4 separate regions of the Homo sapiens genome follow, and regions 1, 3 and 4 are each linked to region 2. Evidence: fine-mapped expression QTL. A gene starts in region 2. Each other region holds a variant in brackets. All regions are shown on one strand. Distances are between the middles of the regions.

What was found. PIP is the estimated chance that this variant, and not a neighbour inherited with it, causes the effect.
Region 1: its variant is fine-mapped to the expression of AP3B1 in whole blood (INTERVAL, PIP above 0.99). The same link has a PIP of 0.9 or more in T cells, blood mononuclear cells, lung, monocytes, monocytes after R848 and neutrophils.
Region 3: its variant is fine-mapped to the expression of AP3B1 in whole blood (INTERVAL, PIP above 0.99).
Region 4: its variant is fine-mapped to the expression of AP3B1 in whole blood (TOPMed, PIP 0.96).

What each region holds. Positions count from the first base shown.
Region 1 is chr5:78,040,769-78,046,645 of GRCh38, forward strand. All of the region lies in intron 22 of AP3B1 (adaptor related protein complex 3 subunit beta 1), which reads right to left. It also overlaps the pseudogene LOC100422441. Among named protein-coding and RNA genes, the nearest start is that of AP3B1, 250 kb to the right of the region's middle. RefSeq lists an enhancer at 5,174-5,750. The variant G/A (reference allele first, on the strand shown) is at 3,254.
Region 2 is chr5:78,291,525-78,297,401 of GRCh38, forward strand. It overlaps AP3B1 (adaptor related protein complex 3 subunit beta 1), which reads right to left and starts at 3,174. Exons shown (of 27, transcript NM_003664.5): 1 at 2,928-3,174. The coding sequence starts at 3,055. RefSeq lists enhancers at 3,437-4,010, 4,385-4,434.
Region 3 is chr5:78,141,439-78,147,315 of GRCh38, forward strand. The region is part of intron 14 of AP3B1 (adaptor related protein complex 3 subunit beta 1); the gene reads right to left. Among named protein-coding and RNA genes, the nearest start is that of AP3B1, 150 kb to the right of the region's middle. The variant G/GTTGTTGTTGTTT (reference allele first, on the strand shown) is at 3,406.
Region 4 is chr5:78,120,794-78,126,670 of GRCh38, forward strand. All of the region lies in intron 17 of AP3B1 (adaptor related protein complex 3 subunit beta 1), which reads right to left. Among named protein-coding and RNA genes, the nearest start is that of AP3B1, 170 kb to the right of the region's middle. The variant G/A (reference allele first, on the strand shown) is at 2,741.

The DNA.
Region 1 (5,877 bases), 250 kb before region 2:
GAGTATATATCAACCTATTAAACATTTTCACTATGCCGTGTACACCTGATGACATTACAAACGTAGCAATTATAGTAATGATTTAAAGTTCCACAAAAATCCAAGAGTTAAATATCATATATACAAAATGCTACATCATGCCTTCTAAGCATCATCAAAACATAGTATTCTTTCTCTAAAAGTGCAACAAAAAATGTGGGCAATTTAAAATAATCATCACCTCTGGCCAGGCGCGGTGGCTCACGCCTGTAATTCCAACACTTTGGGAGGCCGAGGTGGGTGGATCACCTGAGGTCCGGAGTCTGAGACCAGCCTGATCAACATGGAGAAACCCTGTCTCTACTAAAAATACAAAATTAACCGGGTATGGTGGCGCATGCCTGTAATTCCAGCTACTCTGGAGGCTGAGGCAGGAGAATGGCTTGAACCTGGGAGGCGGAGGTTGCTGTGGGCTGAGATCGCGCCATTGCACTCCAGCCTGGGCAACAAGAGCAAAACTCCGTCTCAAAAAAAAAAAAAAATCATCACCTCTAATCTCAGCACTTCGAGAGGCCGAGGTAGGAGGATCACTTGAGCCCAGGAGTTTGAGAACCAGCCTGGGCAACATGGTGAGATCCTGTCTCTAGAGAAAATGTAAAAAATTAGCTGGGTGTGGTGCATTGCGCCTGTAGTCCCAGCTACTCAGGAGGCTGAGGTGGGAGGATTGCCTGAGCTCAGGAAGTTGAGGCTGCAGTGAGCCATGATTAGGTCACTGCACTCCCGCCTGGGTGACAGAGCAAGACCCTGTCTCAAAAAAAAAATAATAATAATAAAATAATAATCATAAAAATTTATGGGATAGTTTATTTGTAAAATATAATAAACAATTAGCTAAATTTAAAATTTTGGTTATATAAAATAATAGGGCTACTGGCCTATTCATTCTATTTAAGCCTTCTGATGATGATAACAATCTAGTATTTTAAGTTTTCAAAGCACTTTCACTTCTAAGGTTAGGTTCTTTTCCTTGAATAAAAACTATTTTCAAAACTCTTCTGTTTCCTTTCTTTCTTTTCTTTTTTTTTGAGACAGAGTCTCGCTCTGTCGCCAGGCTGGAGTGCAGTGGTGCGATCTCAGCTCACTCAGGCAGCTGCAGACTCTCCTTGGTAACTGAGACCAGGCTTTTCCCATCAAACTCCTTGAGCTGCTGCACGCAGTACTCATCAGTGGGCTTGGCTGTATATACTAATTCAAAGCCCCACTTCTGCACTTGCTCCACAAACACAGAGCTGGCCACCTGCTCTTTGCTCTCACCAGTGATGCTATAGATGGATTTCTGTGCCTCTTTCATGCAGGAGACATATTTTGACACAGATGTCATCTCATCTCCAGACTGGGAAGTGTGATACTGCAGCAGCTAGGACATGCGTCACTGGCTAGTGGAGTCTTTGTGGATTCCAAGCTTTAGATTTTAATTTTTGAAATTCTAAAATTTTATTTATTTTTTTTTTATAGATAGGGGTTTCACTCTGTCATCCAGGCTGGAGTGCAGTGGTGCAATCATAGCTCACTGCAGCCTGGAACTCGTGGGCTCAAGTGATCCTCTTGCCTCAGGTAGCTTGGACTACAGGTGTGTACCACCATGCTGGGTTAATTTTTTTTATTTTTTGTTGTGATGGTGTCTTGCTTTGCAGCCCAGGCTGGTATCAAACTCCTGGCTTCCAGCAATCCTCCTGCCTTGGCCTCCCAAAGTGCTGAGATTACAGAGGTGAGATACCACAACTGGCCCAAGCTTTAGATTTTTAGATAAGGCCTCATTGAATTTCTTGCAATTCTCCTTGTCTTCTGCCACCTCAGAGAACAGCTCAAGGCACTTCTTAACAATGTTTCTGTGAATGACTGTTAAGATTCTGCTCTGTTGGAGCATTTCTCGAGAGATGTTCAGGGGCAGATCCCAAGTCAACCACACCAAGGATTAAAGTTGAGATACTCTTATATCATCATGGCTGTCCATGATGAACACATGATGGACACAGAGTTTGTTGTTCTTTTTTTCTTCTCATTCTCAAAGAAGTCAAAGGGAGCCAAACAAGGGATGAACAGCAATGCTCTGAATTCCAACCAACCTTCTACAGAGAAGTGCTTGACTGCCAAATGGTCTTCCTAGTCACTGGTGAAGCTCTTGTAGAATTCTCTATACTCCTCCTGGGTGAATGTCATCAGAGTTTCTGATCCAAATGTTCTTGATCTTGTTTAGTTCTTCCCAATCAATGATTTCTCCTTGATCTTGTTGGTTTTCTTTTTCTTATCCTTACCATTGTCCTCCTCTTCATCTGAACCCACCCACATCTTCTTCAATCTTGGACTTTTTCTCATCATCTCTATCTGCCTTTTTTTGTTTGTTTTGAGATGGTGTAACACTCTGTCGTCCAGGCTGGAGTGCGGTGGTGTGATATGAGCTCACTGCAACCTCCACCTCCTGGTGGATCCTCCCACTTCAGCCCCACAAGTAGCTGGGACCTAAGGTGCGCACCACCATGACCGCCTAATTTTTTGTATCTTTTAAAGAGTTGGGGTTTCACCATGTTGGCTAGGCTGGTCTCAAACTCCTGAGTTCAATCGATCTGCCACCTCAGCCTCCCAAAGTCCTGGGATTACAGGCATGAGCCATTGTGCCTGGCCTATCTTCCTCTTCTTTCTCACCTTTCTCTTCCTCTGCCTATCATCACTGATTTTCTCCTCTCTTTCCTTCTCCAAAGAAAGGGTAATGGGATAGGCTATGAACTGTAAGTGCTCTTCACTACTTCTTTGACCTTCCTCTCTTCTAAGTACTCTGTCTGGTCTTCTTTAAGGTGGAGGGTCACTTTGGTACCCCTGCCAATGGGCTCTCCATGGTCAGCACATACAGTGAAGGAACCCCCAGCAGAGACTCCCAGGCATACTCTTCATCATTGTTGTGCTTTGTGATCACAACTACTTTCTCTGCCACAAGGTAGGCAGAAAAAAAGGCAGCACCAAACTGCCCAATCATGGAGATATCTACACTAGCCTGAAGAGCCTCCATAAATCCTTTAGTACCAGGGAATACACCCTGACTTTGGTAGACACAGGCATTGACATGACCAAGGCTGATCTCCTAATTTGGGAACCATTACCATGGGTTGGGGATGATGTTAACTTCCAGCTCTTTACCATTGTCCAACTTGGAAGGGTTTGTCAGGCTCTTACAGGAAATCTTGTCCAATGCATCAGAAACATTAGATCAACCCCTGAA[G/A]GAAAATCTCCTTGTTAGAATAGAAGGTATTGATGACGAGAGACATGAGTTGGGCAATATCTGCCTGAAAGGCAAGTTTCCAGCTCCTCCGCTCCACGTGCACTTTCTCAGGCATCTCGAAAGAAAAAGGCTACAAGTACTAGAGAGCAAGGTGGGCTGGGACTCTCCGACATGCACATGGCACCAAGGCTGTACTGGGATGACTCCAGAGCTATATATTTTATATTTATAGATTTATACTCAGCAAAAGTTTTCTTTTTTGCCATAAATTCCCATGCTACTAAGGCTATGATAATCAACCTTAAATATAAGCTCTTATCTGGCTAATTATATTTTTCAGTGTTACATGTTTATTTCCTTAATGATAAGCATATTAGAGACAGTGACAGGTCTTACTTTTATTCTACATTGTTCCACAAACATATTTGTTATCAAATCATTAAATAAATGTTGATGTAGCCAGCTTTATCTCTGTGGAAATTCATAAAAAGTTGGCCTACATATAATATCGGGGAAAGAAAGCTGAAACTGTAATGTAAAAGGGAAGACTATTTGAAAGTTGGAGAAAGGCAAGGGTAGAGGAGTGGGACTAGAGCAGAACAGAACAAAGGTCTGGTTCACAGCGGCCAGGAATCAGTACTGTAGATATCATACAAGGTGGTTAGAAGTATGCCTTTAGTCATTTAAGAGCCATCAAGCCTTGGCAGACTCACTGATTCCTTCTCTCAGTCTAATCCTAGGATGCATGGTCCAAACATTTATTTTGTGTTTTCAACTTTGTCTCAAAATTCTACAGCTTTATTATAATTATCAAAAAATATGTTAAGGGATGAATAAAGAAAGAAAAACAGTATAATTCTCTCCACTCATTCTTTCCACATTCAACCAAGTTCAAGGTAAAAAGCATTCTCTAATGAATTCACCGTCTAAAAAGGCCCTCCCTTACAACCTCCAAAGGTTATCTGTGATAATTCCCAGAGGTCTATGCACTCTTTCACAATAAACAGGATCATAAATGACACTTCGTGGTAATAATATATACTTGTTTAACTACAGAAAGGTAGTAAATGAAAACATAGCCAGGTGTGGTGGCTCATGCCTGTAATCCCAGCACTTTGGGAGGCCAAGATGGGTGGATCACTTGAGGTCAGGAGTCTGAGGCCAGCCTGGCCAACATGGTGAAACCCCATCTCTACTAAAAATGGAAAAATTAGCTGGGCGTGGTGGCATGCACCTGTAATTCCAGATACTTGGGAGGCTGAGGTGGGAGGACTACTTGAACCCAGGAAGTGGAGGTTGCAGTGACCTGAGATAGTGCCACTGTCCTCAAGTCTGGGTGATGAAGCAAGGCTCTGTCTCAAAAAAAAAAAAAAAAAAAACACAAAGAAAAAGAAAATGTTTGATTACTTTTTTAACCTTGTTTCCTAAGTTTATACAAGTCATATTACGCCAAACTTCTCCAGCATCTAGATAAAATACATAGGTGATATTTTGTTCAATAAACCGAGTGGGTTCCATAAATACTTCGACTACTTCCACATATAATACATTTAATCCAGTGTTATATTAATATTAACATATATTTAGACTTTAGTTCAATATTTTGTACATCAGACCAGATACCTATATTCCAGAAATACATATGAGATCTGTGGCTGCTTATATTCTAAGATGCTCAACATTGCAAATGGCGTTCTTGACTTCATATTTTATAGACAACAATGATTTTATTAGATGCAAAAAAAGATAAAACATAATTATAAAGTGATCTAGATTTGGGCTGTGAAAATGAGGGTTTAAGAAAAAGGGAAGATTTAATAAGTCTAAACACAATACATGTAGGGCAGAGGTTGCAAACTATAACCCACAAGCCAAATATGGCCTGCTGCCTATTTTTAAAAAGTATCACTGGAACACAACCATATTCTTTCATTTACATACTGTCCTTGACTGCTTTTTTACTCTACAATGGCAGAGGTGAGTAGTTGTAATACCTAAAACATTTACTATCTGGTACCTTTACAAAAAAAGTTTGCTGACCCCCGATCTAAGGGCACAAATGTTAGATCCTTGCCATTCCACTTCCCTTCCCTTGTTGTTGGAAACAATTCTCTACAGCAGAGGGTCCCCAGTCCCTGGGCTATGGACCTGTACCAGGCCATGGGTTGTCAGGAATCCGGCCGCACAGCAGGAGGTGAGTGGCTGATGAGAGCAAGCATTACCGCCTGAGCTCTGCCTCCCGTCAGATCAGCAGTGGCATTAGATCCTCATAGGAGTGCAAACCCTATTGTGAACTGCGCATGCGAGGGATCTAGGCAGCACGCCCCTTATGAGCATCTAACGCCTGCCTGATAATCTGAGGTGGAACAGTTTCATCCCAGAACCATCCCCCTATTCCCAACGGTCCATGGAAAAACTGTCTTCCACAAAACGGGTCCCTGGTGCCAAAAAGGGCTCTACAGGTCTCACGTCTTCTGAGCAGAAACATTAGCAACTTTGCTTCTGAAGCTCTTTTCAAAGATGTTTCCACAGCAAACAGCCTTTGGAAGACAGAGGTAATGCCTCCCTCTGGGGCAGGTGATAGATTTGTTTGTTCATTGTCCAGGATTAGAAAGACAAAATCT
Region 2 (5,877 bases):
TAATAGTTCAAGAAGCATGCATCACCTATGGTAGTATCCCAGCCAAGGATACATAACCTGAATCTAAACATGAGGAAACACCAGCAAACCCAAAAACTGATTAACATAAAATAAAATAATAGGCTTTGCAATCCTTAGATATGTCAAATTCATGAAAGACAAAAAAGGCTAAGGAACTATCCCAGATTAAAGAAGATTAAAGAGACATGGCAACTAAATTAAATATATTATCTTGGACTGGAAACTGTACTTGAGGAAAAAAATGCTTGGGAAAAAAAACACTTTATTGGAACAAAGGATAAAATTAGATTAATTTCCTGAATACATCAACACTGTAGTTGCGTAAGAGAATATCTTTGTTCTTAAAAATTACACATTAAGATTTTCATTGTAAAAGAACATGATGTGTACAACTGAGTCTCCAATGGTTCAGAAGACATAATAACATGAATACGTATATGTGCCTGAATATGCATGGGGAGAGTGAGTGGCAGAGAGAGTAAGCAAGCAATGTAGCATTTTTTTTTTAATTGGTAAATCTGCAAAAGGGTAGCTCTCTGTGTCATTGTTGCAACTTTTTTGTAAACTTGAAACTATTTCATCAGAGTAAACCATTAAAAACCAGAGGTGAGGAATAGGGTAAGCTTTAAGTTTTTTATATAAACTTTGTCATTCGATTTTTTAAAAGGCAAGTAATATTACGGTTTTATAAATGAGAAAATGTGGACTCAAGAGAGATTTAATGACCACTTCCAGAACAGGGGTCTCCTTGTTTCTGTACAATTCCATTAGACTGCAGGTCAATAGCCAAATGTTTCTAATCCCTGGAAGCTTCTCTGGTGGTACTACTTGGAGCTACTATTTAAAGTTTTAAACTTTTTGTGAGTTGTATGCACTCACTAATAAAAATACCATACATTTCATCAAGTAGTAAGTAGCACATCTAAACTTTTGAGAGAATGGGCTCTAATATTAGAGCCCCTGAGTTCAAATTCAGGCAGTGCAATGTTCTACCTTTGTGGCCTTTTCCAAGTTAACAACCTTGCTCCAATTTCCTCACGTGTAAAGTGGGAGCAGAGAAGTACCTGGTAATAACCTGCAGGGTTGTTTAGGAAAACTGAATGAGATAATAAATGTAAAGTGGTGTGCACAAATACTCAATAAATATCTTTCGGGGAACACAATTCAACCATGGTTATTTGCATATATTACATATCACCTCTAATCAATTAGCTACTTTTATTTTAAATCCAACCTGTTAGGTCACCTCAAGAGCACTGGTCACAGAGTCAAAGCCGTAAGTTTTTTTTGTTTTTTTTTTCCAAATCAGGTCCAAATTTGACAAAAATCTTTTTCTTTTTTTTCTTTTTTTGAGACGGAGTCTCACTCTGTCGCCCACGTTTGAGTGCTGTGGCGCGATCTCGGCTCACTGCAGCTTCCGCCTCCCGGGTTCAAGCGATTCTCCTGCCTCAGCCTCCCGAGTAGCTGGGATTACAGGCACGAGCCACCACGCCCGGCTAATTTTTGTATTTTTAGTAGAGACGGGGTTTCACCATGTTGGCCAGGCTGGTCTCGAACTCCTGGCCTCAAGCGATCCGCCCACCTCACCCTCCCAAAGTGCTGGGATTACAGGCGTGAGCCGCAGTGCCTGGCCCCAAATCTGACAAAAATCTAAGAGAAAACATCGTAGATGTTCACAAACCATAAAAGTAAATTAATTTGCGAAACAGATTGATGCCGATATACAGGTTAATTCAGTCTAAACATTTTGCTAATAGTAGAGGCAACAAGCTCCGTACTTGTTCTAGAACAATGGATCATCAAATGCATATAATGAAAAATGAAATCAGTTACCTTACTTTTAAACTTTTCTAACCTTGGGAAAAAGGAAAAGATTGTATCTTACATGCTATATATATGATTTTGATCCTCAATACAGCCAAAATGTAATCCCAATTTGAAGTAGTAGCACTTTCTAGACTACCCAATATTGTTAGTAACGTTTAATTTAAATTTTAATTATACCCTCTAACAGATCTGCAAAGCTACTAGCACAGCTATTCTACCTTAATTTAGCATGAATTTAGTGACAGACTATTATGTGACCCTATTGCTTAGTAATGAAAGATTTAAAATAAGAGAAATGTAAAAATGATAATTCTGGTAAATGTAACCACTACCACCAACCCACCCCCCAAAACAAACAACTTGGGATTTCTTTCCATTTCTCGGTGATACTTTTTACAAAACTAAGTGTACCTTGTTTAACATTCGTTTTTAAAATTCACATTATTAATCTGTAAAAGTTTTGGATTTGTTCACAGTAACACTCTTTTAAAATATTTTCTATTCATATGCTTATTTTGGATTGGTGTTTTTGTCTGTAGTGCAAAGGACATAATCCAAGAACATTAATACTGGTGTAAACCAGTTTGTCCATTCAAACAGCCTAAATCCACCTCTCTGCTCCTACACTCCGGGGTCACAAAATAACTTCCCACAAGCAACACTCGCACTCTCACCTTCACCAAAACACTCCTTTCACCCTAATCAGGGAATGTATTAAAGTCTGATCCGGCGAACGGTAAATAAACTAGAAGACGATGCTCAAAATTCAGACTCCTGAGCCCAGCCCAAGTCCAATTCAATCAGTGTCTTCAGGGGTGGGATCTAAGCTCACCAAGTGGTTTCCTTTTCACTAAAGTTTGAAAACTACTAGAGACCCCTACACACATTCGCCCCAAACTCCCACAACTCCCACCACCGCCAACCAACCCCACCTACCCACCCGCGGGACACGTTACCGCCCTGCCCTGCTCAGACCTCAGGGCGACCCCGCTCCTCTCCAGGAAGCCCACCCTGGCGCCCACTCCTCCGAGTCCGCAGCTCCTCCCTCCCATCCCCGCAACCCAAACCTTTCTCCTCACTTCTTCAAATCGCTGCTAAAGAGGCCGAAGGCCCCCGAGGGGGAAATGGTTGAGGTCGCCTCCTGACCCAGCTCCGTCGCCTCCCCTCCTCCGGACTGCTCATTGTAAGGAAAACTATTGCTGGACATTGCCGCGGTGCTGGCGGGTGCGGGGTTGGTCCTGCCGGGGGTTCTCTCCAAAAGGTTCCAGTCCAGAGGGCACGGAACAAAACTAGTTCTCGTACGGAGGAGCGCGCGCAGGCGCTTCCGGACTCGTCACGGCTCCCTGAGCCGACCTGGCAGTCCACCCCCTGCGCATGCGCAGTGTGCAGGCCTGCTAGATTACCACCCGGGCCATCCAGGCCTGCGCGGACTTTCCTGCTCCGGGCTTTAGAGGTAGCTGAGCGGCTGCGAGCCGGACTGCGGAAGGGGAGGCAGCGGGTGGCTAACTGCCCGGCTCCCGGCCCGTTTGAGGTGTGTCTTTGGAGAAGGATACCCATTGCATCCGTTTTGATCCGTTAAGGAGTTTCCAGAGCCCGGACAGCTCTTTGCTATACTTCAGTAAAGCAATAGTTTTCAGATTTCTCCGGAAATGCCATTTAGCACGCCAGATCACCTTTCCTAAACCCATCACGATCGCTTTTCCTTTTCTTGCTTGTTTCGGCTACTCTCTTCCATCCGGCTTTGCCTTACTTTCATATCGGTCCCAAACAACTTTTCTCCTAGACTTTAAGGAGGCCTCTCCCAACGATGGTTTGGAGGATCCGCACAGAAGCGACCATTCCATCTTTTCAATGAAAGTCTTGGGGGCAGACCGGGCGCGGTGGCTCACGCCAGTAATTCCAGCACTTTGGGAGGCCGAGGCGGGTGGATCACTTGAGGCCAGGAGTTCGAGACCAGCCTAGGCAACATAGCGAGACCCTTTCTCTGCAAAAAATATAAAAATTAGCCGGCGTGGTGGCGCGTGTCTGTGGTCCCAGCTACTGAGGCTGAGGTGGGAGGATCACTCGAACCCAGAAGGAGGGGGTAGCGATGAGTTGAGATCTCTCCACTGCATTCCAGCCTGGGCGACAGAGCGAGACCCTGTCTCAAAAAAATGAAAAAGAAAAGAAAACATCTTGGGGCCACCAGTTCCCGTTTGGAGCTGAAGTGGTGCGTCCTATTGGCGTCTAGCTACCAAAAATAAAATGGACCACCTCGCGCGCCAGTCGTGTTACTCACTAATATGCACTAGGGAGCCTAGGCGGGATGCTTGCCTGGCCCCAGAGTAGCTCTCTCCGGGTGCTGGCACCCGAGAAAACCTCTTTCCCGGGGTGCCTTCCCCCAGCCCGCCTTCTCAGGTGGGTTTCAGCGCCTTCCCTCTCTTCTCCCCAGTGCCTCCCGTCCAAGGAAGGCATTAACACCCAAAGCCCTGGCGGCCAGGTACTGAAACTGTCAAGGGATTCTACCAGGTAGAACGCGAACCTGGAGGCCGGCCGCCCCAGGGAAGGCGGTGGGGCGTTTTCAAGGATGAGAGTATGATCTCCAAATTTCAAAAGGTCACACTGTCACTGTGGAAGCACGCAAGAGCGTGGCTCTGGGTGGGAGAGGAAGGGACGTCCTCCAAACTTGATCGTCTGGTCAAATATTGGCAGGTTTTTAATTCAGCTGTTAGAATACTCCTCCGGAGAGCCAATGATGAGCACCTAAAATGTGTTATTTGTCAGTATTAATTAATAGAATTTCACCTACAACTGACTATTGATGATGAGGATGAGGATGATCATAGATAACTATATATTATTATATAATCCTTAATATATACCAGGATATAAGTAGTTTTATATATATTAAAACTTCTAAGTAGTTTTATATATATAAATAGTTAAAGTAGTTAACTTTTAATATAAAAAAATTTATTTTAAGTTAAAATAAATACTTTTAAGTTAAAATAGTTAACTTTTAATATATATTAAAAGTTCTAAGTAGTTTTATATATATTAATAGTAAAAAGAGCTAGGCTTTGATTACTTTATTTGTAAAATGAGAACATTGATATACACATAGCCTGGAAAATCTCGGACACATACCTGATTACAGAATTTCTTGGTTTTAGAGCATGTACACTTTTACCAGATATCCTAAATTTTTTTCCAGCATACTTTTAGCAGTGGATAATCTTCTTTCTTCACATTCTCACAAACGTTTAGCTTTCTAAAAATGTTTAATTGTCATCAATATGATACAAATGAATATTATTTGTATTGTAATTAATTTTCATTCTCATGGCCATAATGAACTTGAGAATATTTTATGTGATTGTTACTCCATTTGCATTTTATTTCCTGGGAATTGCACATGAACCTATTTATCCACTTTTACACTGAGTAGTTTTTCTGATGGACTTGAAGAGTTCTTTATCATTGAGTCTGTTATTTTTAATTAACTGCTTGATTTTATTTTGTAATATTTTTATTTTTTCATACAGACTCAGGTAGGAGACTGACCTACAATATTGGGGTTTTGGGTTTTGGGGGTTTGTTTTTTGGGGTTTTGTTTGTTTTGTTTTTACATTGTCTTTGAATGGTGTGGATATTAAGAATATCTATTCTTCAAAAAAGAGGTATAGGTAACTTTCTTTTTCTCTGGAATATTACGTATAAGATACAAAGCATATATTCCTGGATGAAATAGGTAAAACTTTATTTTTATCACTAAAAAAAAAATAAAAAAATGAGAGCATTGACAAGAAGGGACTTGAGGCCCTTACTGCCTTAGAATTCTAACACTGTATATTCTTACAGAAAGATAAAAAGTAATAACTCCATGGGCTGTGATCCAGCTTTCCCATATCTCCAGAACTGAAAAATCTTTTATATAGCCATGAAGTTTTCTGACAGAGGAAAAAAAGTCACACTTCCAACTGGAAGAAACATTAATAAAACTAAAAGATTACTCTTTGACACCTGTTGCCAAACCAAACCAGATTTTTC
Region 3 (5,877 bases), 150 kb before region 2:
AGGAATTAATCCTGTATTTATGAATTTTCGTCAGTTATCAAAAAATAAACACATAGGAAATCTCATTAAAATTGATTTCGAAGAGAATATCTTAGAAAATATTCATACAGCAAAAACCGATGGTCTAGAATCTAGATTCTATCAGAGACGAACAAATTCTAGAAGCCAGTCTAGCTGCCCATACCTATTTGTTTCTCCATTATCTGTTGCTGCTTTTGTGCTATAATGGCAGAAATAGTTACAGTGAAGACCATATGGTCCTCAAAGCCAAAAATATTGACTGTCTAGCAATTTATAGAAATGGTTTGCTGACCCCTGCTCTAGAACAGCAGTTCCCAAACCTCAATGCCCACAAAAATCATCCAGGGTTCTTACTAAAAAGACAGGTCCTGGGATCAGCTCCAAAATAGTATTTCTGTGGTGGGGCCCAGAAATCTATGTTTTAATTTAAAAAGCATCACAGATGACTCCTGAGACAGGTGGTCCACAAAGCCCATTTGAGAACCCACAGATAATACAGAAAAAGAAACAGATCAATTAGGTACTATGATTCCAAATCAAAACTGTTTTTGCTCTTTATGTATTAGCATCTACAACACTGGAAATATATCAAACTGATAAGATCATCAAGGTCTGCTTATAAAATCATGAATCCCAGTCTATTATTTGGTCAACAAAAGAAACAGGGATAAATTTGTCCAATATTGCATTTTGGCACTATATTTTTAAATAAACTGCATTTCAATATAATTTATGTTCTTAAAAGTCACTGCTTTGTGACAAATTGGAAACCTTCCATCAGTACCATTAAGACCAACAATTTAGAGTATGCAAATTAGTTTTATTACTATTTGCTTATTTGCATCCTCCCCTATTCCAAAAGGAATTTGAGAGGGTGTGTAAATTCATTTCAGTGAACATTTTCACCTCGCACAGAAAATTTGTTTTTTATAATAAGTGAAAAGGCTGACAGCTATCATTAAAAGGTGGCATCACGAGGAAAGATAATGTTCTTTTTATGAAGTCCTTTTACAATTTCTCAAAGTCCTAATATTTTCTGTAGTTTCATGGCTATACATAGTAGGATTGTTAAAGAAAAAAGTGAGAATAAGGACCTTTCCATAGCTAAAATTTTATCACAATATCTACCATTGCAAAATCTTTCAAAACACCCACATTATGAAATTATATAAAAATATTAAGTTACAATATTGAGTCCTTCACTAGAATCAGAATGAGATGATCAAAAAAGCTTTTAAATAAAAAGGTATATATTTTAAAACAGTGTAACAGCATGTCTTTAAATTATTATTTAGCATGTTTGGTGAGACACAAGAAATCCATATACTTGTGCAATTAGAAAAAGGTCTAAGTGCTATTAAAAATCTATTCATGCAGTGTGATAAAACTGATGCCCTTACTGCATACTGATTTCTGGAAAGAAAAGAGGTTATTTCTAACGTTCCAAAGGTTACACTGCATTAAGACCTTACTCCCAATCTATTATTTTAAATTGGGCTAAAGAATAGTAATTGAGTGGTACATTAAATTTTCCAGTATAGAGGAATTCAAGTTGCCTGCCATAATGAAAGGTAGTTCTAAATAAGAATATATGTGCAACTTCAAATTTCAGTTATGCTAGATTTATTTTTCTTAAATATTTTATTATATATTGCTAGTATAAAAATCAGAATTCTATGACATACCATAATCTATTATCCCATTTTAAGTAATTTTCTTCTGGTAACAATCTTTTGCAATTAAAAAGACGATCCCAAAAACAAGTAATGTTTAAAGAGATTGTTTATATTCATGAATATACTAAAATTAAAATTAAAATATTGGAATACTGTAAACACTCACGATACATATATTTAAAATACAACTCTTTGAAAAAATTAAAAATCAATAAATCACAATGCTCACAATAAAAATCTCAAGATGGTGGTGAGAATAAGATTTGTAGTTTTCTAGAACTGAGCTAATAAAATCCCCAAGAATTTTTAAAACTTAGAAAACTTCACCACAAGAAATAATATCAATATAAATATACCAAACTTTTGGTGATGGCATTGTATTACAAAGCTTAGGAAACTGACAAAGACAACATTTTTGAGCAGGTGGATGGGATCAGAATACTAAGATTTTTGGATTCCAGCTTTCCCTTTCTCTTCCCATTAAGCAACAGGACTCTCATTTATACACCATTGACACTATGAATTCACAGCCACTACTTTCAAAGATTTGAAGCACCTGAAAAAAAGGCAAGTAAGAAAATTAGTCACTTTTTAGAGGCCAGGCACAGTGGCTCATGCCTAAAATCCCAGCACTTTGGGAGGCTGAGGCGGGTGGATCACTTGAGGACAGGAGTTTGAGACCAGCCTGGCCAACATGGTGATACCCTGTCTCTACTAAATATACAAAATTAGCCTGGCACACTCCTGTAATTCCAGCTACTTGGGAGGCTAAGGTAAAAGAATCACTTGAACTCAGGAGGCAGAGGTTGCAGTGAGCTAAGATTGTGCCACTGCACTCCAGCCTGGGTGACAGAGCGAGACTCTGTCTCAAAAAAAAAAGAAAAGTAAATTAGTCACTTTTTGTTCCCCATGGTCTTTTTAACCACAAAATAAATAGGAACACTGAAATAAAACCAAACTAATAATACACACACAGACACAGACACAGGTACAGACACACACACAGAGTCATACATATGATATAATACTTTCATTATGAAGCTCTGCTTTTCAATATTCTCAAAGACAAATTGGATTGTAAATGACTTTGCCTGATTCTTTATTCTAAATGCCCTGAGAAAGTGATTAAATGCACTTTTCAAACCTTGTACTAGAAGGCAGTTTCCACGGCCACCACAACCCATTAATTTGCCAGCAAAAACAAATAATGATTCCTAGCTCACCACAGCAGCTATAGAAAGACATCTAGAAAGATTTTGCAGATCACTCTGTAAGCAGTTCAATTTAAAAGCTATTGTGTTTCAACACCAGCCCACTGCACAGTGCAACAGTCCAAAGTAAACCCTACAAAAACATCAATTTCATTTATTTAAATTTGTCAAAGGCAAAATCAGTAGACATCTAAGCAAACTGCATACCAACAGCAAATCAGATCTAATACTCTGTATCTGGACTCAATATGCATTAAAGCCTAAGCCTGAATTACAATGGGGTGCCAGAGAAAGGGTGGGTAACTTGTGAAATGGCAGGCATCCTGTGAGGCATCTGGGCAACAAGGATACAAAGTGCTATTTCAATATTACTCAGTTTTTACAGAATAACATCTTTCAGTTGTTAAGATATGAAATCCCATCTGTCCCATTAAACATTATGTGAAATCCTGTCAGAGCAATCCACAGGTAGTATGGGTTGTTTTGTTGTTGTTGTT[G/GTTGTTGTTGTTT]TTTTTTAAAGACAGGGTCTTACTCTGTCATCCAGGCTGGAGTGCGGTGGTGCAATCATTGCTCACTACAACCTCAAACTCCTGGGCTCAAGCAATCCTCCCGCCTCAGCCTCCCAAAGTTCTGGGATTACAGGCATGAGCCACCATGCCAGCTGATAGTATGCATTTTATTCTAGAAGAACTCCAAAACCAGTATTTATCATAAATGAAGGATACGCCAAAGGACAGAATACTCACAATCAGAACATGTAAGTTGACTGTATTACAGACATAAATCTATTTGATTTGACCGAATTCAAAATGTAAAATACATTTAAACTTTAGTTTTTATATTTTCAATTATTACTAAATAACCAATTAAAACAAAGCCCTCAATATGATAAAATCTATGTTCTCTTTTTAAAACAAATTACATAGCTAATATCTATTGAGCTCTTACCATGTGCCATGCACTGTTTTTGAGAGCTTTACGTATTTTCTCAGTCATTCATCGCCAAAGCCCTATGAAGTATGCTCTACTATGATCTGCACTAGACATATGAGGAAACTAGGTAACAAATGAGTTAAGAAACTTGCCCACATCTCACAGCTGGTTAGTGGTGGAACTAGGATCAGAACTCCAAATCTGAATCCAAAATTCATACTGGATCACTGGGTAGCGACAAAATGAGTGTGGTAAACTAGGAAGAATACTGGTCAGCAAGCTGTTGAGACCGGTTCTGATCCCACACTGATGGTGTTACATCAAGGAGGCAATTAACTTCACCTCACTGGGGTCATATTTACTTATTAATCAGATGAAGGATTATTCCTTCATCCTCTGTTTGTCTGCCACATTGTGCAATGGCTCCCTTAGTGCCTCCTGCCATTTCCCCAAGAGCCAGATTTTCAGGGCAGACCCAGGCCATCCTCTTGCCTGTTCCCACACCCGTGTATAGTGGGACATTTTCCCACTTCTTTCACCTCTTCTTTTAAGGATAGGTAAGGTGGCCAGGTGGGAAGAGGTCTTGCTATCACTTCTGTTCTCTCTCCTTCCAGAAGAAAGATGGACCCAGGATTCTGCCCTAATAAAGTGGCTCAGGCACTGAAGGAAAACATGCTCAATATTGACCCATTGTCCTTAGATATTGGACAGACTGGCTTTTCCTAAAATTGCAGTGTTTTAGAATGACACTCCTGGGTTTGATGGTGAAATAGGTAGAGATTCAGGAGGACAGAAGTCTCATTTAAGGCTCTTATTTTAAGGCTCACATTTTAAAATCACTTGCCTACGTTTAGGAGTTATCAGGTACTTGGTCGGATTAATAAAACACTGCTTTTATTTCCACATGGCCATTGTTCTTGTATAAACAGCTCTCCTGACTGGAACAGAGAGATTCTGGGGATTCAATCATTCTTCTTTCCTGACTTTGAAGTTATGTCTGCTACATCCCTCATCACCTTCTCCTGGGGTAACTTGTGGTTGACCATTTTGAGGGTTCTGCACAACAAATTGTTTTGATTCTTCCTTGCTTGTCCCACCTTCAAGCACTTCAGTTTCCTCAGATACGTTAGATGAGCAGTAACAACTAATTATCAGCTTTTCATTCTCCTTAAGTTCAAATGTGTGCTGTAGAATTCCATACAGCTTTCTTGTATTTTAATTTCTTTTATTATCATATTCCAGATTTGTCTACTTTTGTTACCTCTCTCTGCTTCATAATAATTAGAAGGGAATTTTGTTTTATTTTCTTTCCAAAAGACCAGATTTAACATGTACTTTTCAACTCATATATATTTTTTGTATTCTATTTTACAAAATCAGCATTGATCCCTCTTCTGTTTTGATTCGTTTTTCTTTTATTTTATATCCCTATACTTTAAAAATGGTGATCTTTATAACTTTAGCCATGTCCTACATGTTTTGAAATAAAGCATTTTATTTCCTGGGTTTTAGAAAAAAGTTTGCATTTCTTCTTTAAATGCATTCTTTAATCTGAAAGTACATTTCTTACTTTACAACTGGTCTGGTACCCTTTTAAATTATTTAAGTCTCATTTCATTGCTTAAGGTCAAAGAATGCAAAATCTTTAAGCTTCCTTTATGCCTAAATACATTCTTGATTTTTTGAAAATATTCACTGGATATACTCCTAAAAGTGGGTATTATCTGTTCAAGAGATATAAGGTTTTAGCTATATTTACTAAATAAGTTTTTGATTACTTAATTTTCTTACTTATATCTGTCTACTAGAAATATCTAATATGAGAGAAATACATTACAGTCACACATTGTAACTATTTTATCAATTTCTCCTCACATTTTGAATAGATTTTTCCTTTACATATTTATTTGGTTGCCATATTTTTTGTGCAAATAGGTTTGTGCTTATTACTTTCTTTACAAATTACCCTTTTTTCATTTTATAATGTTCCTTTTTATCTTGTTAAATGCTTTTAATTAACTGTAAATCTCACTTTCTTGTTCATATTT
Region 4 (5,877 bases), 170 kb before region 2:
ATTTAACAAGGATACCCAGTAATTGAACTCAGCTCTGCACCAAGCAGACCTAATAGACATCTACAGAACTCTCCACCCCAAATCAACAGAATATACATTCTTCTCAGCACCACACCACACCTATTCCAAAATTGACCACATAGTTGGAAGTAAAGCACTCCTCAGCAAATGTAATAGAACAGAAATTATAACGAACTGTCTCTCAGACCACAGTGCAATCAAACTAGAACTCAGGATTAAGAAACTCACTCAAAACCGCTCAACTGCATGGAAACTGAACAACCTGCTCCTGAATGACTACTGGGTACATAACAAAATGAGGGCAGAAATAAAGATGTTCTTTGAAACCAACGAGAACAAAGACACCACATACCAGAATCTCTGGGACACATTCAAAGCAGTGTGTAGAGGGAAATTTATAGCACTGAATGCCCACAAGAGAAAGCAGGAAAGATCCAAAATTGACACCCTAACATCACAATTAAAAGAACTAGAAAAGCAAGAGCAAACACATTCAAAAGCTAGCAGAAGGCAAGAAATAACTAAAATCAGAGCAGAACTGAAGGAAATAGAGACAGAAAAAACCCTTCAAAAAAATCAATGAATCCAGGAGCTGCTTTTTTGAAAAGATCAACAAAATTGATAGACTGCTAGCAAGACTAATAAAGAAGAAAAGAGAGAAGAATCAAATAGATGCAATAAAAAATGATAAAAGGGATATCACCACTGATCCCACAGAAATACAAACTACCATCAGAGAACACTACAAACATCTCTACGCAAATAAACTAGAAAATCTAGAAGAAATGGATAAATTCCTTGATACATACACCCTCCCAAGACTAAACCAGGAAGAAGTTGAATCTCTGAATAGACCGATAACAGGCTCTGAAATTGTGACAATAATCAGTAGCTTACCAACCAAAAAAAGTCCAGGACCAGATGGATTCACAGCCGAATTCTACCAGAGGTACAAGGAGGAGCTGGTACCATTCCTTCTGAAACTATTCCAATCAATAGAAAAAGAGGGAAGCCTCCCTAACTCATTTTAGGAGGCCAGCATCATCCTGATACCAAAGCCTGGCAGAGACACAAACCAAAAAAGAGAATTTTAGACCAATATCCTTGATGAACATTGATGCAAAAATACTCAATAAAATACTGGCAAACCGAATCCAGCAGCACATCAAAAAGCTTATCCACCATGATCAAGTGGGCTTCATCCCTGGGATGCAAGGCTGGTTCAACATACACAAATCAATAAATGTAATCCAGCATATAAACAGAACCAAAGACAAAAACCACATGATTATCTCAATAGATGCAGAAACGGCCTTTGACAAAATTCAACAACCCTTCATGCTAAAAACTCTCAATAAATTAGGTATTGATGGGATGTATCTCAAAATAATAAGAGCTATCTATGACAAACCCACAGCCAATATCATACAGCATGGGCAAAAACTGGAAGCATTCCCTTTGAAAACTGGCACAAGACAGGGATGCCCTCTCTCACCACTCCTATTCAACATAGGGTTGGAAGTTCTGGCCAGGGCAGTTAGGCAGGAGAAGGAAATAAAGGGCATTCAATTAGGAAAAGATGAAGTCAAATTGTCCCTGTTTGCACATGACATGATTGTTTATCTAGAAAACCCATCGTCTCAGCCCAAAATCTCCTTAAGCTGATAAGCAACTTCAGCAAAGTCTCAGGATACAAAATCAATGTGCAAAAATCACAAGCATTCTTATACACCAATAACGGACAAACAGAGAGCCAAATCATGAGTGAACTCCCATTCACAATTGCTTCAAAGAGAATAAAATACCTAGGAATCCAACTTACAAGGGATGGGAAGGACCTCTTCAAGGAGAACTACAAACCACTGCTCAATGAAATAAAAGAGGATACAAACAAATGGAGGAACATTCCATGCTCATGGGTAGGAAGAATCAATACCGTGAAAATGGCCATACTGCCCAAGGTAATTTATAGATTCAATGCCATCCCCATCAAGCTACCAATGACTTTCTTCACAGAATTGGAAAAAACTACTTTAAAGTTCATATGGAACCAAGAAAGAGTCCGCATCGCCAAGTCAATCCTAAGCCAAAAGAACAAAGCTGGAGGCATCATGCCATCTGACTTCAAACTATACTACAAGTCTACAGTAACCAAAACAGCATGGTACTGGTACCAAAACAGAGATATAGATCAATGGAACAGAACAGAGCCCTCAGAAATAATGCCGCATATCTACAACCATCTGATCTTTGACAAACCTGAGAAAAACAAGCAACGGGGAAAGGATTCCCTATTTAATAAATGGTGCTGGGAAAACTGGCTAGCCAGATGTAGAAAGCTGAAACTGGATCCCTTCCTTACACCTTATACAAAAATTAATTCAAGATGGATTAAAGACTTAAATGTTAGATCTAAAACCATAAAAACCCTAGAAGAAAACCTAGGCAATACCATTCAGGACAGAGGCATGGGCAAGGACTTCATGTCTAAAACACCAAAAGCAATGGTAACAAAAGCCAAAATTGACAAATGGGACGTAATTAAACTAAAGAGCTTCTGCACAGCAAAAGAAACTACCATCAGAGTGAACAGGCAATCTACAGAATGGGAGAAAATTTTTGCAACCTACTCATCTGACAAAGGGCTAATATCCAGAATCTACAATGAACTCAAACAAATTTACAAGAAAAAAACAAACAACCCCATCAAAAAGTGGGC[G/A]AAGGATGTGAACAGACACTTCTCAAAAGAAGACATTTATGCAGCCAAAAAACACATGAAAAAATGCTCGTCATCACTGACCATCAGAGAAATGCAAATCAAAACCACAATGAGATACCATCTCACACCAGTTAGAATGGCAATCATTAAAAAGTCAGGAAACAACAGGTGCTGGAGAGGATGTGGAGAAATAGGAACACTTTTACACTGTTGGTGGGACTGTAAACTAGTTCAACCATTGTGGAAGTCAGTGTGGCGATTCCTCAGGGATCTAGAACTAGAAATACCATTTGACCCAGCCATCCCATTACTGGGTATATACCCAAAGGATTATAAATCATGCTGCTATAAAGACACAGGCACATGTATGTTTATTGCGGCACTATTCACAATAGCAAAGACTTGGAACCAACACAAATGTCCAACAACGACAGACTGGATTAAGAAAATGTGGTACATATACACCATAGAATACTATGCAGCCATAAAAAATGATGAGTTCATGTCCTTTGTAGGGACATGGATGAAACTGGAAACCATCATTCTCAGCAAACTATCACAAGGACAAAAAACCAAACACCACATGTTCTCACTCATAGGTGGGAAATGAACAATGAGAACACATGGACACAGGAAGGGGAACATCACACTCCAGGGACTGTTGTGGGGTGGGGCGAGTGGGGAGGGATAGCATTTGGAGATATACCTAATGCTAAATGACGAGTTAATGGGTGCAGCACACCAACATGGCACATGTATACATATGTAACAAACCTGCACATTGTGCACATGTACCCTAAAAGTATAATAATAAAATAAAAATTAAACACACACACACACACAAAATCTCCATATGATTATAATGCGCAGCTACATTTAAAAACCACTAGTCTAAGGCTGGGTGATGTAGCTCATACCTGTACTCTCAGCACTTTGGGAGCTGAGGCAGGAGGATGGCTTGAGCCCAGGAGTTTGAGGCTGCAGTGAGCTATGATCGCACCACTGCACTCCAGCCTGGGTGACAGAGCAAAATCATGTCTCAAAAAAATAAATAAAAGCAAATAAAAATAAAACCACTGATCTAGAGGGTTTAAGGTATGTTGCTTAAAAAGAGAAGCTTGAATATATTTGAATAAGATGCTTATATAAGATCAGCAGTATGGCTTTCTTTTATATTTATTTAAAATGCTTCTGTCTACAAAGATAGTATTCTATAAACAAAGCTCTCTTATATTTGGTAAACTCTGAAGTCCATATTTTTCTTAAATCCAAACATATTTCTCTGAGGTCTGATAAAACGTTTGTTGGATTAATTTAATAACACTAAATCAACAATTTCGGAAAACCAGACTTCTATGCTCAAACGTGCATTTTTTCTTGACATGGCCATGAATTCTATGGAGTTTCAGGTTTTAAAAGGCCAAAGACGAACAATAAAAGTATCTTAATTTGTATTGTGGTCCTTTATGACTAAAAGACCACATTATCATTGTAAGGAAAAGGAATAATAGGGAAAAGAAAAGAAAAGAAAAGAAGAGAACATAGACGCTAATTTGAAAGTTTCTGTAAAGGATAAAATATTGACAGATGTGTTTATGAAGCAAAATACCCTTCATATGCAGAAGGCGGTCTTTCTGTCAGTAGAGAAGAAAGGACTTTCTAGAACTAAGCAAATAAATTATTAACTAAGGATCTTCAAAACTTACTGGGATCATAATATAAATATATATTATATCCTATATCCTAGAAATGGTGGTGTGTAATTCAAAGTGACTTCTACTGTCAATCTGACTAGGTTCCCAGTCATTTTGATTAAAATATCAGATTATCTAAACCTAGGTCATTTTTCTTACTAAGTTATATTTCACAGTTACAGGACTTGACCATGTAAGATCACTTTACAGGAAAACTAGAATAACATAGTATATTATATGCATGAAATACAGTGACATGACTTGGAAGGGAGATGAAGTAGAGTGAGAGACAAGAAAGATAATACGGACATTATTTTTTGTATTGTAGCTGCATTTAAAAAGAAAACTATCTACGTTATTTTTATATTTAATTGTGTCCCTCATAGTATAATTTTAAGCCAATTGTCTCAGAGTCCAATAGACTGAAGCTGTTTTCTGCATGGCATCAACAGACAGTGACAGTTTTATCAAACCATGTTCAATCAGTTATAATGATTCTCTCTAAGTTACCAATTATTAATTTCATAAATATAATCAGCAAAATGAAAAAGAAATTAATTTGTCTCTGTTGAATTGGACAGGTGAAACGAACATAATATGTTATATTTAAGTACTGTCCCTATAAGGTAGTTAATGCTTAGAAGAGCACATGAAAATGGAAGAAGCCAGCCAACAAACCAATCTATCAGCCAATAAAGAATACTGCTGAGACCAAATTAAATTGCATAGCATTGCTATCAACTCTGAGAAGATAATGCTTTTTGGTGGGTGGGGGCAGCAAGGAGGGAGAGATAAGGCGGAAGCAGGGGAAGGTTAAAAGGATGGTTCTACTTGGGCTAAAACATCATGTACCCCATAATGAAAAAAAAAAACGAACCATAAAAACAACAAACAAGCATAATAAGAAATTAGGAGAGAAAGTATGTCCGTAGGAGGAACCATAACAAAGAACACTCTCTTTATATTCTAGTATCTGATCAAAAGTTGCACAAATAGGCTGGGCACGGTGACTCACACCTGTAATCCCAGCACTTTGGTAGGCTGAGGCGGGCAGATCACTTGAGGTCACGAGTTTGAGACCAGCCTGGCCAACATGGCGAAACCCCATCTCTACTAAAAATACAAAAATTAGCCAAGCATGGTGGCATGTGGCTGTAATCCCAGCTACTTGGGAAGCTAACGCAGGAGAATCGCTTGAACCTGGGAGGCAGAGCTTGCAATGAGCCAAGATCATGCCCCTGCACTGCAGCCTGGGTGACAGAGCAAGACTCTGTCTCAAAAAAAAAAAAAAAAAAAAAAAAAAAAATTGCACAAATAAGGCAACTCTTTTGAAGAGTACTTAAGAGTATGCAGATTTGAGTAAAAATCAACAAACTCAGCTGCAAGGAGGGATAGACATGTAATTGCTTCTCATATTTTTACATATTACTACTGTTACAAATT